Linked DNA regions of Homo sapiens. Each later gene encodes a partner of the first gene's protein in a complex. Each region holds a gene or a part of one and is shown in the gene's direction. Other genes may lie near its edges.

Region 1 (8,683 bases):
GTTTTTATTGCATTTTTACTAACCCATTTTTAATATGCCCTTCCAATGATGGCCATGTGAACTTTTTTAGCTTGGTAACTCTCTTTCAAGCTATACTATCCTCTAGATAAACTGTTAACATTGCCTTGCCATTTATGTGTACAGGAGGGGAATCCCACAACAACCTGTGGATGTCAGGTCTCAAATTAACAGGCAAGGGAAGATAGCCCTGTTGACATTTTGGCCTGGGTATTTCTTTGGTATGGGTGCTTTTCTTTGCTTTGGTGTGGGTGCTTTTCTGTGTGTTATAGAATGTTTACCAACAACTATGGCCTTTACTCACCAAATGCCAGTAACAAACCCCCTTGCTCTGACAACCAGAAATGCCTCCATGTATTATATTGCCAGATGTGCCCTAGGGGACAAAACTGCCCTTGGTTGAGAACTTCTGCTATAGTAGATTGGTATTGTCAAAATAGCAAGATGAGACCTCTTTTGGTGTGGGAATAGACCTCTGTTCTCAAGTGTACACAGGAAAGACACTGATAAGAGTGTCCACCTCTCCCAGAGTTGCATCCAAAATTGGGGGTCAGGAATAAATCATCTATAGTGATTCATAGGGCTGTACTCAGGTCGTTTGGCCTGGAACCTCTAGACAACTATGGATGTGTGTTTTTATCTTAATTTGCTGGAGAAGCAAGCATTGCCTAAGCCAATGGTTTTTAGGTTGTCTCCTTTGAGACTGCGTTAATGACATTTCACCTTATTTGTGTCTAGACCTTCCTATTTAACTTGTCCCTTTTATTTTAGTTAAAGTGGAAAAATTGCTCTTCCCTAGAGGCAAGTTGTTCGGTTTGTTTTTTGTTTGGAGTCTCACTCTGGCACCAAGGCTGGAGTGCAGTGGCGTGATCTCCGCTCACTGCAACCTCTGCCCCCACACCACAGCCTCCCGAGTAGCTGAGATTATAAGCGCCTGCCACCGTGCCTGGCTAATTTTTATATTTTTACTAGAGACAGGGTTTCACCATCTTGGCCAGGCTGGTGTCGAACTCCTGACCTCGTGATCCACCCACCTCTGCCTCCCAAAGTGCTGGGATTACAGGCATGAGTGGCTGCTCATGTTTTGTTTTGCTGGCCAATTGTTTTGTTTTGAATGTAATTTCCTCTAGCCTTTTTCAGGGTCTTTATCCTGTTCTCTCTTATATTTTCTGCTTCTGTGTTTTGATTTTAATTATCCCCATTGGTTTCATCTCTCCAGTTTTAAAGGAAGAGCAAATTACCACCCAGTCTCCTTTTCAGAGTGAAACTAATAAAAAGTTGTTGATAAATGCCAGGGATCACAAGGCCCACAGGCCACATCCAACAAGTGGCCTGTTTTTGCACTGCCCACAAGCTAAGAGTGTTTTTACACTTACAGGTTTGTTTAAAAATAAGCAACAGAGATCTTGGTGGCCAATAAGCCTAAAATATTTAGTAATTACTCTGTTTCTTTACAAAAACTTCGCTGACTCCTGAATATGCTGTTTCAATTTCCAAGATTACTTCAAGGCTCAATCTGAGCCCCCGTTCTGTGTTTATAATTTCTCTATAGGTGATCTCTGACCTGTGTATAGCTTCACTAACAACCTCTGTGTAGTCAGCTCACAAACTTACATCTATCCCAAGCCTCTTTCTCCAGACTCATATATCCAGCAGCTATATCTTTATGTAGCTATCCCAGAGACAATGTACACTCAAGTATACTAAAAACTAAATTTAGGATCATCTCCAAGACTGATACTCTTTAATTCTCTTTTTTTCTCTCAATGAATGACTAAACCGTCCAGCCAGAAATAAAAGAAACTTGGAAGCTGTCCCTGAATCATGCTTCTTCCTTACTATCGTGACTAAACCCAATACGTTTTAACCATGAAATCTCTTAAATCTACCTATTGCTCCATATCTACCAGTTTATCCTCCTACAAGCTTTCATTAACTCTTGCTTGAATTACTGATTGACTAACTAGTGTCTCTAGATCCCCTCTTTAACATCTCCAGTCCACTTTCCGTATCACGGCTAGAATGATAGTTTTGAAATACAAGTCTAATTGCTTTACATCCTGTTCACACACAGTAATGACTTCCCTGGTCTTGAAGTATATATTTTTTTAATTTGATCCACCAGGCTTTGCATGGTCTGGCTCCTGTTAATCTTGCAAGGATTACTTTGTTTTATTTTGTTTGTTTGTTTCTTGATTGCACTTGTAGTGGGCTGCTTCCAGCCCTCTATATGCTCTTCCCTTGGCAGTATTTGAGGCCTGTATCTTCTTTCGTATCCTTTTGCATATTTAATGCTGTTTATCCCTAGAGCTAAACTCAGACCTTTTCTGACCTCCCTGAGTGGCTCAAATTTTCCTTTTTTTATGCTCTCATTGCATCTTACATCTTTCTTTCATAGCAGCCATTACAATGATAATTTCTCATTTATTGGTGTGATGAGTAGATTAATGCCCATCTCCTATGCTTTTATGTTGGATTAGGATGAAACTACCACATGTTCAGTATTCTGTCCTCAGCACCAATTACTGTACCTGATACAGATACTGAGAATTTGAAAACAGAAGTTAGATTATTGATGGTGCAAATTTTCTTGCACATAGGAGGAGGTCCCAGATAGCAGTGGTAGGAATTTGCTGAGGATAGGGAGTGGGACCCGAGAAGAGAGCTACTTTATGATGCAGTGGACCAAGAAAGATGCCTTCCTTTTTATATGTTGCAGATTGGTTATACAAGTGTTCAGTTCAGAAACTGGTTGTAGTTATCTCAAATATTGAAAGTGGTGAGGTCCTGGAAAGATGGCAGTTTGATATTGAGTGTGACAAGACTGCAAAAGATGACAGGTAAATAGGAATTACATTATTTCTACTTTGATATATTTTTTTTCAAAACTTGTTTTTATTACTAATTGAGTTCTAATTGTATTGAACTAGTTTTATATAAAATATAGTTTGTTTCTAATTTATATTTTCTAAGATATCCTCAGTCACCTATGGAAAAGAATTGTGCTCAGTTTAGCATATCATTGATTTGTATATATAATATAATTTTAACATAATTGCCTTTAGTCTAAATCAGTAGTTTTCAAACAGTATTTATGGTGATATATACAAAACTACACATGATATACTAGATGAACCATTTAATAATTGTTCTAAGATATTTTTAACTATAAGGAATGATATTAGACTCACACAATTTAAGATGTAGCTCTGCTGTACTTCCTTTAATGCCATCTACTTCCTAAGACACTTCATAAATTTCTGAAGGTTCCAGACTCCCTGGAAGAGAAATGCATTGTCCTAGGCATGCTCTTCTATAAACTGAGAACCATTTCTTATAGTGAAATGTAGTTTGCTTCTGAAGGCTTTGGTGTATTTTAGGAAATTTTTAGCTTATAAAATAATTTGATATACAATTTAATGTTTTATTTGAGAAAATAGGAAATTAGACATTTAGGCATTACTAAAAATGCTGAAATGATTATACCAATACATATTTTAGATATCACTTATTTTTATTTCAAGAGATGCTGAAGTTTCCTGAACTTGAAGTGATTGGCAAATTTTCTAGTCATCTGATACTAAATGACCTGACACTAAGACCAGCTCTAAAAGATGACTGGCAGGATAAATGAAGTAATAAGGATGAATGTTGTGCCTACTAGGTTGTAGGTCTGAAGGATACTTTCACTCACATTTTTTACAAACCTCCTTTCTCAAATAAGCCCTGCTTATTTGATGTTGAGAGCATTTAATCAGATAAATAATCTAACCACTATGTTTGAAATAATTTGTTAAGACCTGAAATGAATTAATTGATTTGATTTTTTTTTGACAGTGCACCCAGAGAAAAGTCTCAGAAAGCTATCCAGGATGAAATCCGTTCAGTGATCAGACAGATCACAGCTACGGTGACATTTCTGCCACTGTTGGAAGTTTCTTGTAAGTATTATACAACTTCTTGTTGAATTAAATTGATTGGCAAAAAGACTAAGCTACTGCCGTAATCACCCCTTTATTAAATTTTGTCTTATTTATCAGATTTATGTAATATAAATTGAAGGAAAAACATTATCATGCAAAAGTAATGTATCGTAGTCTCCCTTTCCACAGGGAGACCCACAGTGAATACCTGAAACCATGGATAGTATGAACCCTATATAATGTTTTTTTCTTATGCATACATACCTATGATAAAATTTAATATGTAAATTAAGCATAGTAAGAGTTAATAATAAACTGGAACAATTATAACAATATGCTGGCATCACTATTCTTGTGCTTTGGGACCATTATTAAATAAGATAAGGGTTACTTGAACACAATCACTAAATTGCACGGAAGTTAGATACAATATTTTCTTTACTGAAATAAATGTTCATTGAGCAAAATAAATTAACTAGTGATTGGAGACCAAGCCAAATGACCTTTTCCAGCAGTGAGTGGTTCAAAATAGAAGAGAGGCAGCAAGATTAGTTTTACTTTTAGAAAATAATATACTTCAATGATCTTATCCCCAATTTAGGTTCATTTGATCTGCTGATTTATACAGACAAAGATTTGGTTGTACCTGAAAAATGGGAAGAGTCGGGACCACAGTTTATTACCAATTCTGAGGAAGTCCGCCTTCGTTCATTTACTACTACAATCCACAAAGTAAATAGCATGGTGGCCTACAAAATTCCTGTCAATGACTGAGGATGACATGAGGAAAATAATGTAATTGTAATTTTGAAATGTGGTTTTCCTGAAATCAAGTCATCTATAGTTGATATGTTTTATTTCATTGGTTAATTTTTACATGGAGAAAACCAAAATGATACTTACTGAACTGTGTGTAATTGTTCCTTTTATTTTTTTGGTACCTATTTGACTTACCATGGAGTTAACATCATGAATTTATTGCACATTGTTCAAAAGGAACCAGGAGGTTTTTTTGTCAACATTGTGATGTATATTCCTTTGAAGATAGTAACTGTAGATGGAAAAACTTGTGCTATAAAGCTAGATGCTTTCCTAAATCAGATGTTTTGGTCAAGTAGTTTGACTCAGTATAGGTAGGGAGATATTTAAGTATAAAATACAACAAAGGAAGTCTAAATATTCAGAATCTTTGTTAAGGTCCTGAAAGTAACTCATAATCTATAAACAATGAAATATTGCTGTATAGCTCCTTTTGACCTTCATTTCATGTATAGTTTTCCCTATTGAATCAGTTTCCAATTATTTGACTTTAATTTATGTAACTTGAACCTATGAAGCAATGGATATTTGTACTGTTTAATGTTCTGTGATACAGAACTCTTAAAAATGTTTTTTCATGTGTTTTATAAAATCAAGTTTTAAGTGAAAGTGAGGAAATAAAGTTAAGTTTGTTTTAAATTTGTCTTAAAACATTTTGATACTGGTTTGGTGTTGATATAGTTAAATGGTAATTAGAATTGATTCAGCATAGCTAATGAATTCTTGTTCCTACGAAGTTATAGAACTTAAGGGTCCAAAGTTGAGTGAGTCTTGAGGTGTCTTCAATCTAATGGATAAACTTTGATCACATCCTGTTCATCTCATAGCAATAGACTTAAGGCTATTACTTCATCATTGTGAAAAGATAAATGTCCTTTGGAATTAGTCCAACAATTCCAGTTGAACAAGTGTTGATTTTAGTACTTTACTATACTCTTAGCCTTATTGTCAGCCTACTTTTCCTTATATACTTAAATACTATGCTTATTCCTGTGCTTTCATTAATACCCTCATCTGGTACATGCTTTCTATCCAGTTCTCACCTGTTTTTCCAAGGTCAGTTTAAGGCAGATTTGTAAAGTCTTCTCTAATCTCTAATCTAAATCTGACCTCATTTTGTAAAAATTCAGTTTATTAATGTTTATTATTAGACACTAAGTTCTTTATGTGTATTAACTTATTTAACCTTCACTATTTTTAAGTAATTGCACATAGTCTGAATCTGTTCATTCAGAAATTACATATTGAGCAAATACTGTGGATCAGTGGCAGTTTCTGGGTTCTCAGTGACAAATTTGTAGACTCTTCATATCTTTATGGAATAAGTGGACCACTGGTGTTACCAACCTAGATGATTTCAAGAAAAGTGGCAATTAAATGCTTCATTTGTATTTTAACTATTTGAGAAGTCAGACTAAATTCTGCGAAATCACTTTTCCCCCCCAAGATGGAGTCTTATTCTGTCGCCCAGGCTGGAGTACAGTGACGCAGCTCAGCTCACTACAGCCTCTGCCTCCCGGATTCCAGCCATTCTTCCGTCTCAGCCTCCTGAGTAGCTGGGATTACAGGCACGTGCCACCACACCTGGCTAATTTTTATATTTTTAGTAGAGAGAGGGTTTCACCATGTTGGCCAGGCTAGTCTTGAACTCCTGACCTCATGATCTGCCCGCCTTGACCTCACAAAGCATTGGGATTACAGGCGTGAGCCACTGCGCCCGGCTGAAATCACATTTTTAAAGGTTGTGTGTATACTCTGGTCATTTCAACTCAGCTACCAATATTAACAGGATTAAATTCTTAGATTTTTGTATCATTTGCATGCTACTATTTACTCTGAGGTTTCTGGAGAGCTAGTCATGATGAGTCATTTTACCCCTTACAGATTATATAATCAATTAAGAAATACACATTTTGGGCTGGGCGCAGTGGCTCGCGCCTGTAATCCCAGCACTTTGGGAGGCCGAGGCAGGTGGATCACGAGATCAGGAGTTTGAGACCAGCCTGGCCAAGATGGTCAAACCCCGTCTCTACTAAAAATATAAAAATTAGCTGGGCGTGGTGGCGGGCGCATCTCAGCTACTTGGGAGGCTGAGGCAGGAGAAATCGCTTGAACCCATGAGGTGGAGGTTGCGGTGAGCCAAGACCGTGCCACTGTACTCTAGCCTGGGCGACAGAGCAAGGCTCCATCTCAAAAAATAATAAATAAAAAAGAAATACACATTTTGGAGCTGAGTGGGAGCCAAACTATGAGTTTTATTGAGGTGAAGCTATACTGGAAAAGCTTTGCCCTGTAGCTCCAAGTGGACTGTCCCATCCTCTTTCTAGACCTTGAGGCTTACCTCAGGAGGATGATGTTTAAATCAACAGCTGAAAGACTTGTGAGTGGTTTCTACACCATGTTAAAGAGAAGGTTCTAAGACAGCATGATAGGCCTCTAGGCCTGGCCTGGACTCTGGCTCAGTGTTGCTTACCATATGTAGAGGATGAACAGAGGTTAAGCCCATCAAGGTCTGAAGTAGAGCCCAGGAGGAACTGAACTGTATCTGGCTTTCAGGATCCTTTTCCCAGTGTCATCAATCAGAGAAGTCAAACCTCTGTGAGAATGCTTGTGCAGAGGTATAACAGTCTCATGTATTGGTTGGCTTTTGCTGCACCTTTCTCATTCTGTTGGAGGGACATTGGTTAGTCAGGACTCTGAAGGCCAGCTTTTTCACACTGACCAAAGCAAGTGAAGGTCAAGCCTAACTTTAATGGGACCAGGAAGTATACTCCTCCCATGGAGGTGGTGGGAATGGCACCGAGAAGTTTGATGACAGTTATCTAATGGACTAGAGGTTGGCAAACTTTCTGTAAATGGCCAGGTAGTAAATAGTTCTGCTTTTGAAGGCATATGGTCTCTTGCACCTACTCGAGGCTGAAAGCAGCTATAGACAATACATAAATGAATGAGCGTGAGTGTGTTCCAATAAGAAAAAAACATGGCTGTTTGCTTCGGCCCCAGGGTTGTAGCTTACCAGTCCTGTAACAGATCACAGTTTGCTCTTTTGGTCACAAATACTTGAACCCCTCCCTAGTTCAGAGCATTTGATACCGTAATATTTAAAGCTCACTTGTAAAACATCGTTTGTTGCCTCCATCCATAGTATCTCAAACAGAATGTCTCTCCCAAATATACCTAAATTCCATATTCTCTGAAGCACAACCAGCTATTTTCTTGACATACTTCCTAACACACCCCACAGTTCACAATTTGATCTGAAAACTTGTTAAGGGAGGTTCTTTGGCATGTGATGCCATAAAAAGAGAGGTATGGGCTCTCCTTTAAAAAAGAGACCCTTTTTATGAGACTCACAATAGGATAAAGAGCCCATGCCTATTTTTAATCATTTTTTCACTATATAGACATGCATGCTGAAAAATGTTTTTATTAGTATAATGCTAATTATACTGACTTCCTATATATTTTAGCATATAGATTCAAAGATTATTAGCACAATAAGGTAGATAACTTCATAGACCATTTCTTCATCTTGTTTTCATTTAGTATGTAAAATTTATCTAAAATTTACATGAAAGATCAGAATAGCTATGTAATGCTACTTTGTAACTCTTATATTTTCCACCAGATGTCACTAATGCTGTAATATTCAAATTAAGATGACTTTCTTTTGGTTCTAAAGGCTGTAAGCTTATTGGAAAAGCAAGGTTACTCAGCATTGGAATTCCTGGCAACAAATATATAAATACATTAGGGGAATAAACACTTAGCATTTATTATTTACTAGTCACTTCACATGAATTTTTATTTAATTCTCATGCTTTTGTGCACAAGTAAAACTGGGGGTCAATGGGCATGCAAATTGTGTCGTGGTTTTTGAAGTTTAGTGGTCTCTCCTATCCCTGGCCAAGGAAGTATGCAAA
Region 2 (8,683 bases), on another chromosome or scaffold:
TGTGAGAGTGTGTGTCGTGCTGCAGTGTGAACTTGAAGGGTTTTCTCACCCCTGAAGTTCAGGGCTGACTCTCGGCGGACGCTGCTGAGTCTTCTCCCCGGCTCGCCCCATGTGTGCATGAAAGTGCCTGGGACGCGTCAGATTCTCAACTTGAGACGCCCGGAGAGTCTTTTGAAGTTGAAAACACTTTGATTTCCTGACAGCCTCAAGACAAAAAAAAATCTCCCCTTCGCTGGCTTTGAGAGCAGGTGTATTCTACAAGCGAGGTTCACAGGGACCTATGGCTGCCCCGGCAGATGCCATCCAGGCACGCCCCTCTCCTCTCCCGCGGGTCCTGGTGGGGGAGCCTCTGTGGGAAGCCTGGGGGCTCCGGGGCCTGGCAGACAACCAGTCCTGCTGCAGCGAGGTGGGGACAAGGCCGGGAGCAGCTCACTTCCCAGTAGAGGCCATCCGATGGCGCCAGGGCACGGGGCAGCTGCTGTCCTCATGGCCCGGGGTAACGTGGGCACAGGGTTTCCTCATCCCACTGTGCTCTGTGTCTCCCCTGAGCCCGGTGATTTTACGCACCTGACTTCGTTAGTCTTCTCGGCAATGCCCAGCGTGCAGACCAGGCTCAAGAGAGGTGTGTCGGTGTGCCCAGGGTCACGCAGCTTCCTGGTGGCCAAGCCGAGGTTAGAAGCTAGTTCTGGTGGGTGCGAAAGCCCCCGATGTCGGCAGCTCTGCCACCAGGCCCGCACAAGCAGGTGGTGTAAGAGGGGAGGCGTTGGGGCCGGCAGTGCTCAAGTCAGGATTGAGCCGTCTATCTGGAAGGTCTGTTGAGGGTGTGTGCTGGTGGCCGGGAGGTGGTGGCAGGCTGACTACCTGCCATTTTCCTGCAGTGCCTAGGCCCAGGAGAGGGAGCAGCCCCCGGTCAGGACCCAGCTGCAGGACACCCCATCCTCATGGACCTTGCTTCCCGCTCTCCGTCCCCCCACAAATGGGCTCCCAGCATAACTTCCCCCGAGGGCTCCTTTCCTCTCCCCACACAGAGCCCTGCTCCGGAGCGGCGCTTGCAGCACACCAATGACAGGAGGATTGGGCTTCAGGGAAGCAGGCGCCTGGAGCTGTGTCCAGTTAGGTGCGTGGCGCTTGCAGATCCAAGCATGAAATATTCATGCCTCCCCCGGCCCAGCAGCTGCGGCTTCTCATCTGGAACAAGGGGGTGCTTCTCCCAGGAAGGCCAGTGGGAGCAGGGGTGTGTCTGAGAATGCCTGGGCGCTCTGCCCTCACGATGGCCGCTGATGCCACAGGCCCGGCCTCTGTGCCCAGGCCACTCTCCAGCCTGGTGAGGTCTGTTCTGGGAAAAGAGAGAAGCAAGACAGATGTGGGCCTTGCCCTGTGGGGCCAGGGCACAGGCAGGAATCCCACTTGGGGTTAAGACGCTGCAGTCACCCCTCCAGGTGCCAGGGTCCCCTGTGGCCGTGGCGTTCTAGGAGAGATGGGCAGGGAGACGCTGGCGCCCTGTCGTGTAGCTTATCCTTGTATCTGCTTCACAGGCTCTTCCACTGTGCAATTTCCTAAAATTTTGGCGAGGCCCATTTATCCATTTTAATTTTATTCTGTGGATTGTGCTTTGGTGTTGAGTGTCAGAGCTCTGCCTCATCCAGATCCTGAAGATTTCTTTTTTAACATAATTCTGTGTTTTACATGTAAGTTCGTGATACAGTTTGAGTTAAATTTTATTTGAGATGTGAGGTTTCGGTCAAAAAAATTTTTTTTTAACTAAGTGTGTCCAGCTCCTCCGGCTCCAGCTGTAGCAAAGACAAGGCTGCCCTTCCTCCACTGAAGCGCCTTTGTGACTTTTCTGTGACTTTTCCGTATCGATTAATAGGGTCATATGTTGTTTATTCTTTAGCCTGTTGATATAGCAGATTACATTGATTGATTTTCAAATACCAAGCTAGCCTCGTACACCTAAACGAAGTCCCACTTGGTCACGGCATAATATTCTCTGTTAGAAAGTGGCCTGGACGCGTCTGTGGGTCTCTTTCGAGTTCCTCTGTTCTGTTCTGCTGGTCTCCACATCTCCCCTCCAGCGCTGCCCCAGCCATGTCTGTCTGACGTAGGAGCCGTATAACGCTGTGCTGTAGCTGTACGGTTCTCAACATCAGGAAGGGCAATTCCTCTACTCTTCTTTTTTGGAATTGCTTTCTATATACATTTTAGAATAATCTTGTGTCTCTCTACCAAAAAAAAAAAAAAAAAATGCTGGCCGGGCATGGTGGCTCACGCCTGTAATCCCAACACTTGGGGAAGCCAAGGCAAAAGGATCGCTTGAGCCCAGGAGTTGGGAGACCAGCCTGGGCAACACAGGGAGACCCCATCTCTATGAAAAAAATACAGCCATGAGTGGTGGTGCGCACCTGTAGTTACAGCTACTTGGCACGTTGAGGCAGGAAGATTGCCTGAGGCTGCAGTGAGCCAAGACCACACCACTGCACTCCAGCCTGGGTGACAGAATAAGACCCTCTTTCCAAAAAAAAAAAAAAAATATATATATATATGCTGAGGTTTGGACAGCAATTACCTTAAAACCAAAGATCAATTTTGGAAAAATTGATTTACTATAAGTCTTCCAGTTCATAAACATTGTATCTATTTATACAAACATTCTTTTTATTCCTTTCGATTCCTTTCATCAGTATTTCCTAACTTTCTGCAAACAGACACTATACAAGTTTTTGTTAGATGTATACCCGAGTATTTAAGATGTTCTGTAAATTATATTGCCTTTTAATTTTGTTTTTCACTTGTTTGCAATTGCTTTATAGAAATGTGGTTAATTTTTGTATGTTCATCTTATTTCCTGCAACCTTCGTGGACTCACTTAGTGTTCCAGGAGTTTTCTGCAGATTGCTCAGGATTTTCCACGTGGGCCGTCACGTCATTCTAGGAGTTTTCTGCAGATTGCTTAGGGTTTTCCACGTGTGCCGTCATGTGATTTCCGAGTAGGGACAGTTCTGTTCTTTTCCAATCCCTATGCTGCTGCTTTCCTTTTCTTACCTGCATGCCCTGGCGTGAGGAGCTCCCATGCTGGGTTGAGGATGAGTGGGGAAAGCCAGCTCTCCGCTGACCGAATGAGGGAAGGCGGCCAGACTCTTCCGTGAAGCAGCGTGAGCTGAGGGTTCTTCGTGGTGCTTTTTACCAAGTCGGAGGACTTTCCCTTGATTCCTGCTTTGCAAGAGTTCTTGTCAGGAATGGAGATTAAATTTTTTCAAATGCTTTGCCTGTGCCAATAGGATCATATCATTGTCTTCCTTTAGCCTGTTGATAGGGTGGATAACATTGATTGATTTTCAAATTTGAACTAGCCGTCGTTGTACACCTAAACTGAATCCCACTTGGTCAGGGTGTGATACTCTTTTTCGTGTGTTGCTGGATTCCATTTGTTAGTCCTTGTTGAGTATTTTTGCAGCTAAGCTCATGAGAGACTGATACTTATTTTTCTTTGTGTGCGCACCATCCTTGTTGGTTTCAGTACAGGGTTCATAGTGGAAAGGTGTTTCTCTGTCTTTTGTTAACTGAAAAAGGATTGTGTAAAATTGGTATTAATTCATATTTAATGTTCGGTAAAACTTTCTAGTGAAACCATCTGGGACTGGAGATTTTGAGTAGCATTTTAATTAGAACAAACTTGATTTATTTAATGGTTATAGGACTACCGAGGCTATTTTATCTTGGCACGTTTTGGTAGTATGTGGTTTTCGAGGAATCCATCCAGTTTGTTATGAGCATCAAGTTTTGTTGTAGTATTTTTTATTGTTATTTTAATAGCTTCTGGATCTATTATAATATTTCCATTTCATTTCTGATATTGGTCATTTCACTCTCCCCCCCCCCTTTTTTTTTTTTTGAGATGGAGTCTCGCTGTGTTGCTCAGGCTGGAGTGCAGTGGCACGATCTCGGCTCACTGCAAGCTCCGCCTCCTGGGTTCATGCCATTCTCCTGCCTCAGCCTCCCAAGGAGCTGGGACTACAGGCACCCGCCACCACACCCGGCTAATTTTTTGTATTTTTAGTAGAGATGGGGTTTCACTGTGTTAGCCAGGATGGTCTTGATCTCCTGACCTCGTGATCCGCCCACCTCGGCCTCCCAAAGTGCTGGGATTACAGGCGTTCCCCCTTTTTAATCTTTGTCAGTTTTGCCAGGGGTTTATCAATTTATCGTTGCTGGTCTTTCTAACAAATTTTTGAGACAGGGTTTCACTCTGTTGCCCAGGCTGGAGTGCAGTGGTGTGATCATAGCTCACTACAGCCTCAAACTCCTAGGCCCACGTGATCCCACATACCTGGGGCTACAGGTGTATGCCACCACACCTGGCTGATTGATTATAGGGATGGGGTCTCACTGTGTTGTCCAGGCTGGTCTCAAACTCCAGGGCTCAAGTGATCCTCTCACCTTGGCCTCCCAAAGTGCAAAGATTACAGGTGTGAGCCCTGCTCCTGGCCGGCCTTATTGCTATTTTTTAAAGAAGCAGTTTTTGGTTTTAATAACTTTTGTTTTCCTGTTCATTCCTACTTGTATTATTTCCTCCTCCTGCTTCGGGCTTGTTTTTCCCTTCGTTTCTTGAAGTAGGAATTTAGAGAAGCGATTTGAGATCTTTCTCCTTTCCTGATACAGGCATTGAGTGCTGTCCGTTTCCCTCTAAGCACTGCCTTGGGTGCGTCTGGCAAATTTCATTATGCTGTATTCTTGTTTCCATTCTGTTCTCTTTTTTATTTCCTTCGAGGCATCCCATTTGACTCGTGGATTACTTAGAAGTGTGCTGTTTAATTTCCAGGCACTTACAGTTTTCCTGTTGTCTTTCTCTGACTGGTTTCTGGTTTTGATGTCCACTGGTGTGGCCTCCACCTCTTCACGCCACCCCACAGATGAACAGCATTCACATAACTTCCCAGTATCTCGAAGTAGCATCGTTTCCATTTCCTGCGTGTCTTCTCATTTTACTGCATTATTTCAGCTTTCCTTGTTTGAGCCAGGATTCAGGGCTTCCTTCATTCCATCTCTAGCTTCCTCCCCTCGAGTTTCCCAGTTCATGGAGTTTCTCTTGGACCCTCAGCAGCAGGGGGTCTTGTTCTTGACAGGAATCCCTCACACTTCCCCCTTGGCCTCCGAGCCCCACCACATCCTGCGGTTGGTGGTGTGTGGAGAAAGTGGTGTGTGGAGAGAGTTGGTGGTGTGCGCTGTCTCTGCTCTCCAAGCCCTTTGTCAGCCCCCACCCCTCCCTCACTCCGTGCCTCTTGTCCGTGCCCGCTGGGACACCATGGGGCTCGGCTCAGGGGATGGTGGGACCAGCGCTTAGTAAGACTAGTCAGCCCTAGGCACCGAGTGAGCACTGCTCACGTGGCAGAGCTGGAATGGGGGCCGGGCACACAATCCCTGGCCCACGTGTTCCACGGACATGCTGCAGAGGTCCCCGGCCCTCCAGGGCAGGCCCTCTCTGCTTCCAGAGGGGCAGGTGAGCCCCAGGCCAGGCCAGCGAGGGTCTGGACTAGAGTGCAGTGGCCACAATGGACGCCGCGAGTGTCTTCATTAAGAGTGAGTGTCTCAGTCTCCCCCAGGGCGCCCGCCAGCCACAGGGCCGCTATGTGCGCAGACTAGACAGGTGGCAGCTCGGGCCGGCCAGGCAGAGGGAGAGGAAGCCAGAGCCTGCGCGCAGGCAGCCTCAGAAGTATTTCCAGCCACAGCCAACGTGTCTTACTGGCAATTTGCTTTTTAAAAAATTGCAGTTTAATTTTAAGTGAGCAGCCCGTAATTACAGTGATTTACGAGGTACCTGGGGACTGTGTGATATTTGAACATGGCAGAGGGCTGAGCAGCGATGGCAGAGATGGATGGGCCCGGCGCCACTCATTCAGCAGGTCCTGCTAATGCCGGAGCGTTAGACCGAGGTGGAGCCTCCCAATGTGGCTGGGTACGCTGGGGGAAACGGAGTCAGAGGTGGGCTGCACAGCAGGTCGACTTGTTCACCGGGGGCTGGTGTTTTGCAAACGCTGGGTCTGCCTTCGTGTGGGGTTTGAGCTGGGAGAGTAGCACTGGTTACTCCTGCCTGTCTCCGTCCACCCCCACCCCCACCTGGAGGGCAGCGCGGTATATTAGGGCATCATTCTTCCAGAGCCGCCTGAGGCCGGCAGAGAGGAGGTGCTGTAGGAGCCGTGAGTGGGTTGCCCGGCCTACCATTGGGAGCAGCTGTCTTGCTGACGCTGGCGGGGTGCACCTGTTTCAAATAAAGAATGATCAGAGCTCACGCCTGTAATCCTCACGTCGTGGGCAGCTGAGGCAGGAGGATCACGTCAGGCCAGGAGTTTGAGACCAGCCAGGCCAGGAGTTTGAGACCAGCCTGGGCAAAATAGCTAAAGTCTATCTATCTCTCAAAAAAATTTAAAAATTAGCCAGGTGTGCTGGCACATGCCTGTCATTCCAACTGCTCAGGAGGCTGAGGTGGATCACTTGAGTCCGGGAGCTCGAGGCTGAGTGACCCGTTATCATGCCACTGCACTCCAGCCTGGGTGACAGAGTGAGACTCGTCTCTAAAAAAAAATATTTTTAGAAATGAACGGCCAGGCTCCCAAAGCCTGCCAGCCTCTGAGGGCCGGGGAAGGCGGGTGCCTGGAAAACAGCTATTCTCTGGTCCAGCCTGGCCAGAGTCTGCACCACAGTGCGTCAGGCCCAGCCAGGTTGCCAGCCCTGGGTTGGGAGGAGGGCGAAGGGCCGGCTGAGGAGACTTCTTCCCACACTGCCTCCCCACCCCTGCCCGGCAGCTGCAGGAGAATCAGCCCCTCTGACATTTAGGGGGAGAAATTCAGAATCAAGAGCAGAAGGCAGAAGTGAAAGGATTTTCTCAGCGAAAGGTCAGAGTGGTTTCTCTTGTTTTTGTTTAAAAATGGTTTGTGTTGAACTATGACAAGGCCAAATGTACTAAGGCAGCAGAAACAGGGGGAGGGCAGGGGGAGGGCACGGGGACGGCTCCTGAGAAACAGGAGGTGCAGGAACAGGTCAGGTCGCAGGGCCTCTGGGGCAGCACGTGCTCCAAAGGTGGTGAGGGGAGGGGCGACACCATCAGGGCGGGGCCCAGCCCAGGCATGCTCCGGTGGACAGGGGAGCTGCCAGGACCAAGCTGGATGGAGCCAGGCCGCCCTGTGGCTCCTGGGGAGGGTTCCCAGAGGGCTGCCGGGCGGAGGGAGCGCTTTCCAAAACGGTTTCCTGAGCTCCGATGCACACACATGCAGCTCACCCTCACGTCTAGCGCTCCATTAGTCTACCGTTCCGTTCCTCCCGGCACATTCAGTGCGCAGCCGCGACCAGTCTAACCGTGGCACATTTCCACTGGCCCTGAGCCCTGACGTGCCCCTCCAGGACATCCCCTGGGCACGGAGTTGTGTCGACAGGTCTCTGTGACTGGCTGGGCGTGTTTTCGGGGTTTGCCCGCGTGGCAGCGTGTATCAGAGTTCGGCTGTACGAAGCGGTGTTGACGGGTAAACCCGGTTTTGTGTCTCCCTCCGGCGGTTGAGGGCTGGTTCCGCGTTCCATCTGTTGGTGATGGGATCGTGTTGCCGTGGACACCCGTGCCGAGGTCTGTGCGTGGACTGCGCTCAGACCCCCTGGCTGCGCGCCCGGGCGGGTGCTGGGCCCATGGACTCTGCGTCCAGCTCTTTGAGGAGCTGCCGGCTGTTTGCAGTGGCCGCACCACACACGCTCCCGCCAGCGACGCGGAGGGTCTGATTCCCCTCGACCCAGCAGCTCATGGTGGTTGCTCTCAGTGGCCGTCGGCGCGAGGCGGCTCCGTGTCTCGCTCAGTTGCGGTTCACGTTTCCCCGGTGCCCAGCGTCCTGGCATGAGCTCATTGGCCGTGTGTGGCTCTTCTCTGGAGAAATGTTCAAGGGCCCCTTGTTTAATTGGCTCTTTCCTCTTCATGGTGGAGTTGTGGGAGTTCTGGGCATATTCTGGGTACAGGACTTTTCAGGGACGTGGTTTCAGAGGGAGCTTTGTGGTGGGCCGGGTTTGTGTCCTGCCTGACCTGGGGCTGTGTGGGTGCTGACCGGGGTGGGGCTGGCTCTCGGGGGCAGCTCAGAAGGGCCTCTGTCCACTCCCCACACAGCCCAGGACCGTGGCACAGCAGCTTGCTCAGACCTGCTGTGTGACTCCTGCCCTGTGTCCCCTGGGGCCTGCAGCGCTGTCTGGAAGCTCCTCCTTGCCCGTTCTCCAGTTACAGGAGGCCGCCCTCTGGGCTGCAGAATCCACAGAGCCAGACTCCCCCTGGGCCCCCAGCGCCCCCCTGCACAAGTGGGGAAACTAGGTCATGGGGCCCAGGCAGTGTGGAAGGCGTTGCAGGACTTGCCCAGGGCGTGGGGTCCTCCAGCCTCAGTGAAGAGTGGCACTAGGGCCTGGCACAGGTGCTGGAGCCCCCCAGGTGGAGGAAGGAGCAAGGTGGCAGCCCCTTGGGTGGGCACACCCCACAGTGCCTGGGACCCCCAACTGCCTGGGTAGATGACAGTGTAGACAACAGAGACCTTGCCCTGGGTTAATTCAGTCCCTTTAGGTGACCTGGAATAAGGCCTGGCAGGGTTGAGGACGCATCTACCCCTGTCCAGGTCCTCAGACTGAGGGAAGCCCCCATGGCTGGAGGGGCTGTGTAGGGAGGGAG
Region 3 (4,285 bases), on another chromosome or scaffold:
GGCTCACTGCAACCTCCGCCTCCCAGGTTCAAGTGCTTCTCCTGTCTCAGCCTCCTGAGTACCTGGGATTATAGGCATGCGCCACCATGTCCAGCTAATTTTTGTATTTTTAGTATAGACGGGGTTTCACCATGTTGGCCAGGCTGGTCTTGAACTCCTGACCTCAGGTGATCCGCCTGCCTCAGCCTCCCAAAGTGCTGGGATTACAGGCATGAGCCACCGTGCTCCGCCTGTTTGTTTCTTTTTTTGAGAAGGAGTCTCGCTCTTGTGTGGCCCAGGCTGGAGTGCAGTGGAGCGATCTCGGCTCACTGCAACCTCCACTTTGGGTTCAAGCGATTCTCCTGCCTCAGCCTCGAAGTAGCTGGGATTACAGGCATGTGCCACCACACCTGGTTAAATTTTGTATTTTTAGTAGAGACAGGGTATCGCAATGTTGGCTAGGCTGCTCTCAAACTCCTGACCTCAAGTGATCCGCCCGCCTTGGCCTCCCAAAGTGCTGGGATTACAGGCGTGAGCCACTGCTCCTGGCCCACCTGGCTAATTTTTGTATTTTTAGTAGAGATGGAGTTTCACCATGTTGGCCAGGCTGGTCTCGAAGTCCTGACCTCAGGTTATCCACCTGCCTCAGCCTCCCAAAGTGTTGTTGGGATTACAGGTGTGAGCCACTGCGCCAGGCCATGAACTTCTTTTGCCTGAGGATATTAATTATTGAATTTTTAAGTTTTTCTTTGTTCCTTGCGGCATCTCAGTTTCTTCTAGAATCCATTCCCCATTTGTTTTGTTCTGGACTTTGACTTTCATGTTGGAGAGTTTTATTCTGTGTCTGGTGAATATTTAAGAATAAATTGGCCGGGCGCGGTGGCTCACGCCTGTAATCCCAACACTTTGGGAGGCTGAGGCAGGCGAATCACGAGGTCAGGAGATTGAGACCATCCTGGCTAACATGGTGAAACCCTGTCTCTACTAAAAATACAAAAAATTAGCCGGGCGTGGTGGTGGGCGCCTGTAGTCCCAGCTACTCGGGAGGCTGAGGCAGGAGAATGGTGTGAACCCGGGAGGCGGAGGTTGCAGTGAGCCGAGATTGCGCCACTGTACTCCAGCCTGGGCGAAAGAGCGAAACTCTGTCTCAAAAAAAAAAAAAAGAATAAATCATTGCAAGCTGTGTGTGCATGCCTGGGCCTTATGAGCTGATAGACTTCACTATAAGGAGATTAGGTGGGAACCTGGTGATCTCTTTGTGGGGATTGGAAAGTCTTCCCTCTGGATGGGGGAGAAATTTGGCAGATGATCTAAGCATCTTCACACAGATTTTCATTCATTTCCCCTATATTCACTCTTGCCTCTGTGGTGCCTGTATCACCACTTCCTAAACCTTTCTGGGGTTCTGCTGTGTGGATCAGTTTGCATCCCTTGGGGGTCCCTTCTGTCAGCACTTGGTATTCAGCTCTCTTGAACTCTTAACTCTTCATCTTCTTTCTTTTTTTTTTTTTGAGACAGAGTCTCGCTCTGTCACCCAGGCTAGAGTGCAGTGGCGTGATCTCAGCTCACTGCAAGCTCTGCCTCCTGGGTTCAGGCTATTCTCCTGCCTCAGCCTCCCTAGTAGCTGGGACTACAGGCATCCACCACCACACTCGGCTAATTTTTTGTATTTTTAGTAGAGACAGGGTTTCGCCATGTTAGCCAGGATGGTCTTGATCTCCTGACCTTGTGATCCGCCCGCCTCGGCCTCTCAAAGTGCTGGGATTACAGGCGTAAGCCACTGCGCCCAGCCAACTCTTCATCTTCTATCTTCCAAAACTTCTGTGTTTGCATTTGGCTAGTGTTGTGTAGTTTCCAGTTCTTTCCTCTTGGGAGTTTTCTTTGTCAGTCTTTCCTCTTCTTTCCTTCATTTGTTTCTTAATTTCTTTTCTCTCATTTTGTAATATTTCAGGTGGAAGTGCAAATAAGCATGTGTTCAGTTTACTATGTTTAAGTGGAAGAACAAGTTCAAAGTCATGTTTATTAGACCAAATAATCCTCATTCCTGTTATCACTCCCCATACAGCAAAAATTTGTTGTCACTTTGTCATGTCACCAAATTTCTATTTTAGTTGCTTATATCTGGATATCCTCCACCTTCAGAACACTGTGTTTGCTGTTCTAAATGTGGGAGAATTATGGTTTTGTACAAATAATATATTTTCCTTTTCAGTATAATACCCTCTGATAAAACACAGTGTTTTGGCTGTGGCGGTTCATTGAGCTAGAAATTAAGTCCTGTAAGTCTATGTACACATCCCAGCAGGGTTCTTTTCAAAGAGCATTAGCTTCCCCCTGCCTTGTTCTTCTCTCCCACCATTCTTTGTCCTCACAGGCAGAGGAGATGCTGAAGAAGAAACCTCGGGCCACCACTGAGGTGAGCAGCAGGAAATGCCAACAAGCCCTGGCAGAACTGGAGAGTGTCCTCAGCCACCTGGAGGACTTCTTTGCACGGACACTAGTACCGCGAGTGCTGATTCTCCTTGGGGGCAATGCCCTAAGCCCCAAGGAGTTCTATGAACTCGACTTGTCTCTGCTGGCCCCCTACAGCGTGGACCAGAGCCTGAGCACAGCAGCTTGTTTGCGCCGTCTCTTCCGAGCCATATTCATGGCTGATGCCTTTAGCGAGCTTCAGGCTCCTCCACTCATGGGCACCGTCGTCATGGCACAGGGACACCGCAACTGTGGAGAAGATTGGTTTCGACCCAAGCTCAACTATCGAGTGCCCAGCCGGGGCCATAAACTGACTGTGACCCTGTCATGTGGCAGACCTTCCATCCGAACCACGGCTTGGGAAGACTACATTTGGTTCCAGGCACCAGTGACATTTAAAGGCTTCCGCGAGTGAATGAGTGCTTCTTAATCCTAAAAACACAATGGCTGAATTATCTTTCTCCATGTGGCGCTGAATCACCCATCTGGTTTGGAGCTAGAGTTGCTTCCTGGTGAGAGAGGAAGCAACTCTCCTTCTGGTTGTCTGCCTCCCCTCAGATTTCCTGATAGGCTGATGGCATGTGGCTGTGACTGTGACTGTAATCATTGCTGAACAACATCTCTTTGAATCAAAGGTTGATTTTCCCAGAGGGTGCTGGGTCAGGCATTTCTATTAGGAGTTGGAAAGCAAAAATGGGTCCATAGACACTCTATGGAGGTGTCCCTTTCTGCTCTTTGCTGTGTCCTTTCAGAATTTTTACCAGGAACATAATGTGGATGTGACTTATGAACTTAAATATAAAATAAATAGATTCTTATTATATTTTCCTGAAATTGTTTTGACTTAACTTGTCAGGTTTTAGGCTATTTTGTCTTTCTCCTTGGCCTCTTCTGCTTCAGGGCTTCTCGAATTTTTTTTTTTTTTCTTTTTTCTTTTTTGAGATGGAGTCTCGCTGTATCGCCCAGGCTGGAGTACAGTGGCACAATCTTGGTCGCTGCAACCTCCACCTCCCAGGTTCAAGGAATTCTCCTGTCTTAGCCTCTCGAGTAGCTGAGATTGCAGGTGTGCACCACCACGCCCAGCTAATTTTTGTATTTTTAGTAGAGATGGAGTTTCACCATGTTGGCCAGGCTGGTCTCGAACTCCTGCCCTCAAGTGATCCACCTGTCTTGGCCTCCCAAAGTGCTGGGATTACAGGTGTGGGCCACCGTGCCTGGCCTTAGGATTTTTTTACTAATGATTTTTTCTCTTGTTCAGCCCCAGGCTAGTCTAGGAAATTAAGTGACTTGGCCAAGTGCATATGTAGTTTGATAGCAGAGTTAGGACTAGAGTCCTCATTAGCTATCTTTTAGCCAACGTGCTTTTCTTATCCCATACAGATTTTTGTGATGCTTAAATTCTGTATCCCCCAAAGCAGAGGTCACCTTTATGTGGGAAGATTGTGGTAAGGAACTTAGCTTAGCAGGCCATTGAATGAGAGCAGTGATTTTGGGAAATAGTCTGGCTAGGTGCTTGGTTTGTAGTAAACTGTGAGCAGGTGTGTGCTGAATAGTGAGAGGGGAGGAGCCTCTGTGCCTGGCCAAACACCTCAGTTTTTGGAAGCAAGTTGAAGACAGAATCCACACCTTGCTGATGTTCGGGATAGGTATATGTGTGTGTATGTATAATATATAAATGGTATGTATAGTCCAGGTGGGTGACTCATGCCTATAATCCCAGCACTTTGGGAGGCCAAGGTGGGCAGATCGCCTGAGGTCAGGAGGGAGACCAGCTGGCCAACATGGTGAAACCCCATCTCTACTAAAAATACACAAAAAAAGGCTGGGCATGGTA

The links.
Region 2: the proteins of MAD2L1 (region 1) and MAD1L1 are in contact, whole or in part, in a crystal structure (PDB 1GO4), measured with the Homo sapiens proteins. Residues at the interface, in NP_002349.1 of Homo sapiens: Tyr38, Leu61, Tyr64, Asn67, Val68, Trp75 (codon at 2,740), Gln82 (codon at 2,761), Lys83 (codon at 2,764), Ser89 (codon at 2,782), Ile91 (codon at 2,788), Glu92 (codon at 2,791), Ser93 (codon at 2,794), Gly94 (codon at 2,797), Arg99 (codon at 2,812), Gln101 (codon at 2,818), Ser150 (codon at 4,545), Phe151 (codon at 4,548), Asp152 (codon at 4,551), Leu153 (codon at 4,554), Leu154 (codon at 4,557), Ile155 (codon at 4,560), Tyr156 (codon at 4,563), Thr157 (codon at 4,566), Asp158 (codon at 4,569), Lys159 (codon at 4,572), Asp160 (codon at 4,575), Leu161 (codon at 4,578), Val163 (codon at 4,584), Lys166 (codon at 4,593), Trp167 (codon at 4,596); in NP_001013858.1 of Homo sapiens: Glu527, Arg528, Ala530, Leu531, Gln532, Gly533, Asp534, Tyr535, Gln537, Ser538, Arg539, Thr540, Lys541, Val542, Leu543, His544, Met545, Ser546, Leu547, Asn548, Pro549, Thr550, Ala553, Arg554, Leu557.
Region 3: the proteins of MAD2L1 (region 1) and MAD2L1BP are in contact, whole or in part, in a crystal structure (PDB 2QYF), measured with the Homo sapiens proteins. Residues at the interface, in NP_002349.1 of Homo sapiens: Tyr33, Arg45, Thr52, Leu54, Lys122 (codon at 3,878), Asp126 (codon at 3,890), Glu127 (codon at 3,893), Arg129 (codon at 3,899), Ser130 (codon at 3,902), Arg133 (codon at 3,911), Gln134 (codon at 3,914), Thr136 (codon at 3,920), Ala137 (codon at 3,923), Thr138 (codon at 3,926), Thr140 (codon at 3,932), Phe141 (codon at 3,935), Leu142 (codon at 3,938), Leu144 (codon at 3,944), Glu179 (codon at 4,632), Val181 (codon at 4,638), Arg182 (codon at 4,641), Leu183 (codon at 4,644), Arg184 (codon at 4,647), Tyr199 (codon at 4,692), Asp205 (codon at 4,710); in NP_055443.1 of Homo sapiens: Pro61, His79, Tyr82, Gln83, Gln85, Pro88, Leu89, Pro90, Gln93, His96, Ala185 (codon at 2,594), Leu187 (codon at 2,600), Arg188 (codon at 2,603), Phe191 (codon at 2,612), Arg192 (codon at 2,615), Phe195 (codon at 2,624), Asp198 (codon at 2,633), Ala199 (codon at 2,636), Phe200 (codon at 2,639), Ser201 (codon at 2,642), Glu202 (codon at 2,645), Leu203 (codon at 2,648), Gln204 (codon at 2,651), Ala205 (codon at 2,654).

Annotation. Positions count from the first base shown.
Region 1 is NC_000004.12:120,056,150-120,064,832, reverse strand, and holds part of MAD2L1 (mitotic spindle assembly checkpoint protein MAD2A), read left to right. Parts: intron 1-2,737; coding exon 2,738-2,858; intron 2,859-3,855; coding exon 3,856-3,959; intron 3,960-4,542; coding exon 4,543-4,715; 3' UTR 4,716-8,683. UniProt on the Homo sapiens protein: Component of the spindle-assembly checkpoint that prevents the onset of anaphase until all chromosomes are properly aligned at the metaphase plate.
Region 2 is NC_000007.14:1,816,290-1,824,972, reverse strand, and holds part of MAD1L1 (mitotic spindle assembly checkpoint protein MAD1), read left to right. Parts: intron 1-8,683. UniProt on the Homo sapiens protein: Component of the spindle-assembly checkpoint that prevents the onset of anaphase until all chromosomes are properly aligned at the metaphase plate.
Region 3 is NC_000006.12:43,637,668-43,641,952, forward strand, and holds the end of MAD2L1BP (MAD2L1-binding protein), read left to right. Parts: intron 1-2,353; coding exon 2,354-2,866; 3' UTR 2,867-3,274; downstream 3,275-4,285. UniProt on the Homo sapiens protein: May function to silence the spindle checkpoint and allow mitosis to proceed through anaphase by binding MAD2L1 after it has become dissociated from the MAD2L1-CDC20 complex.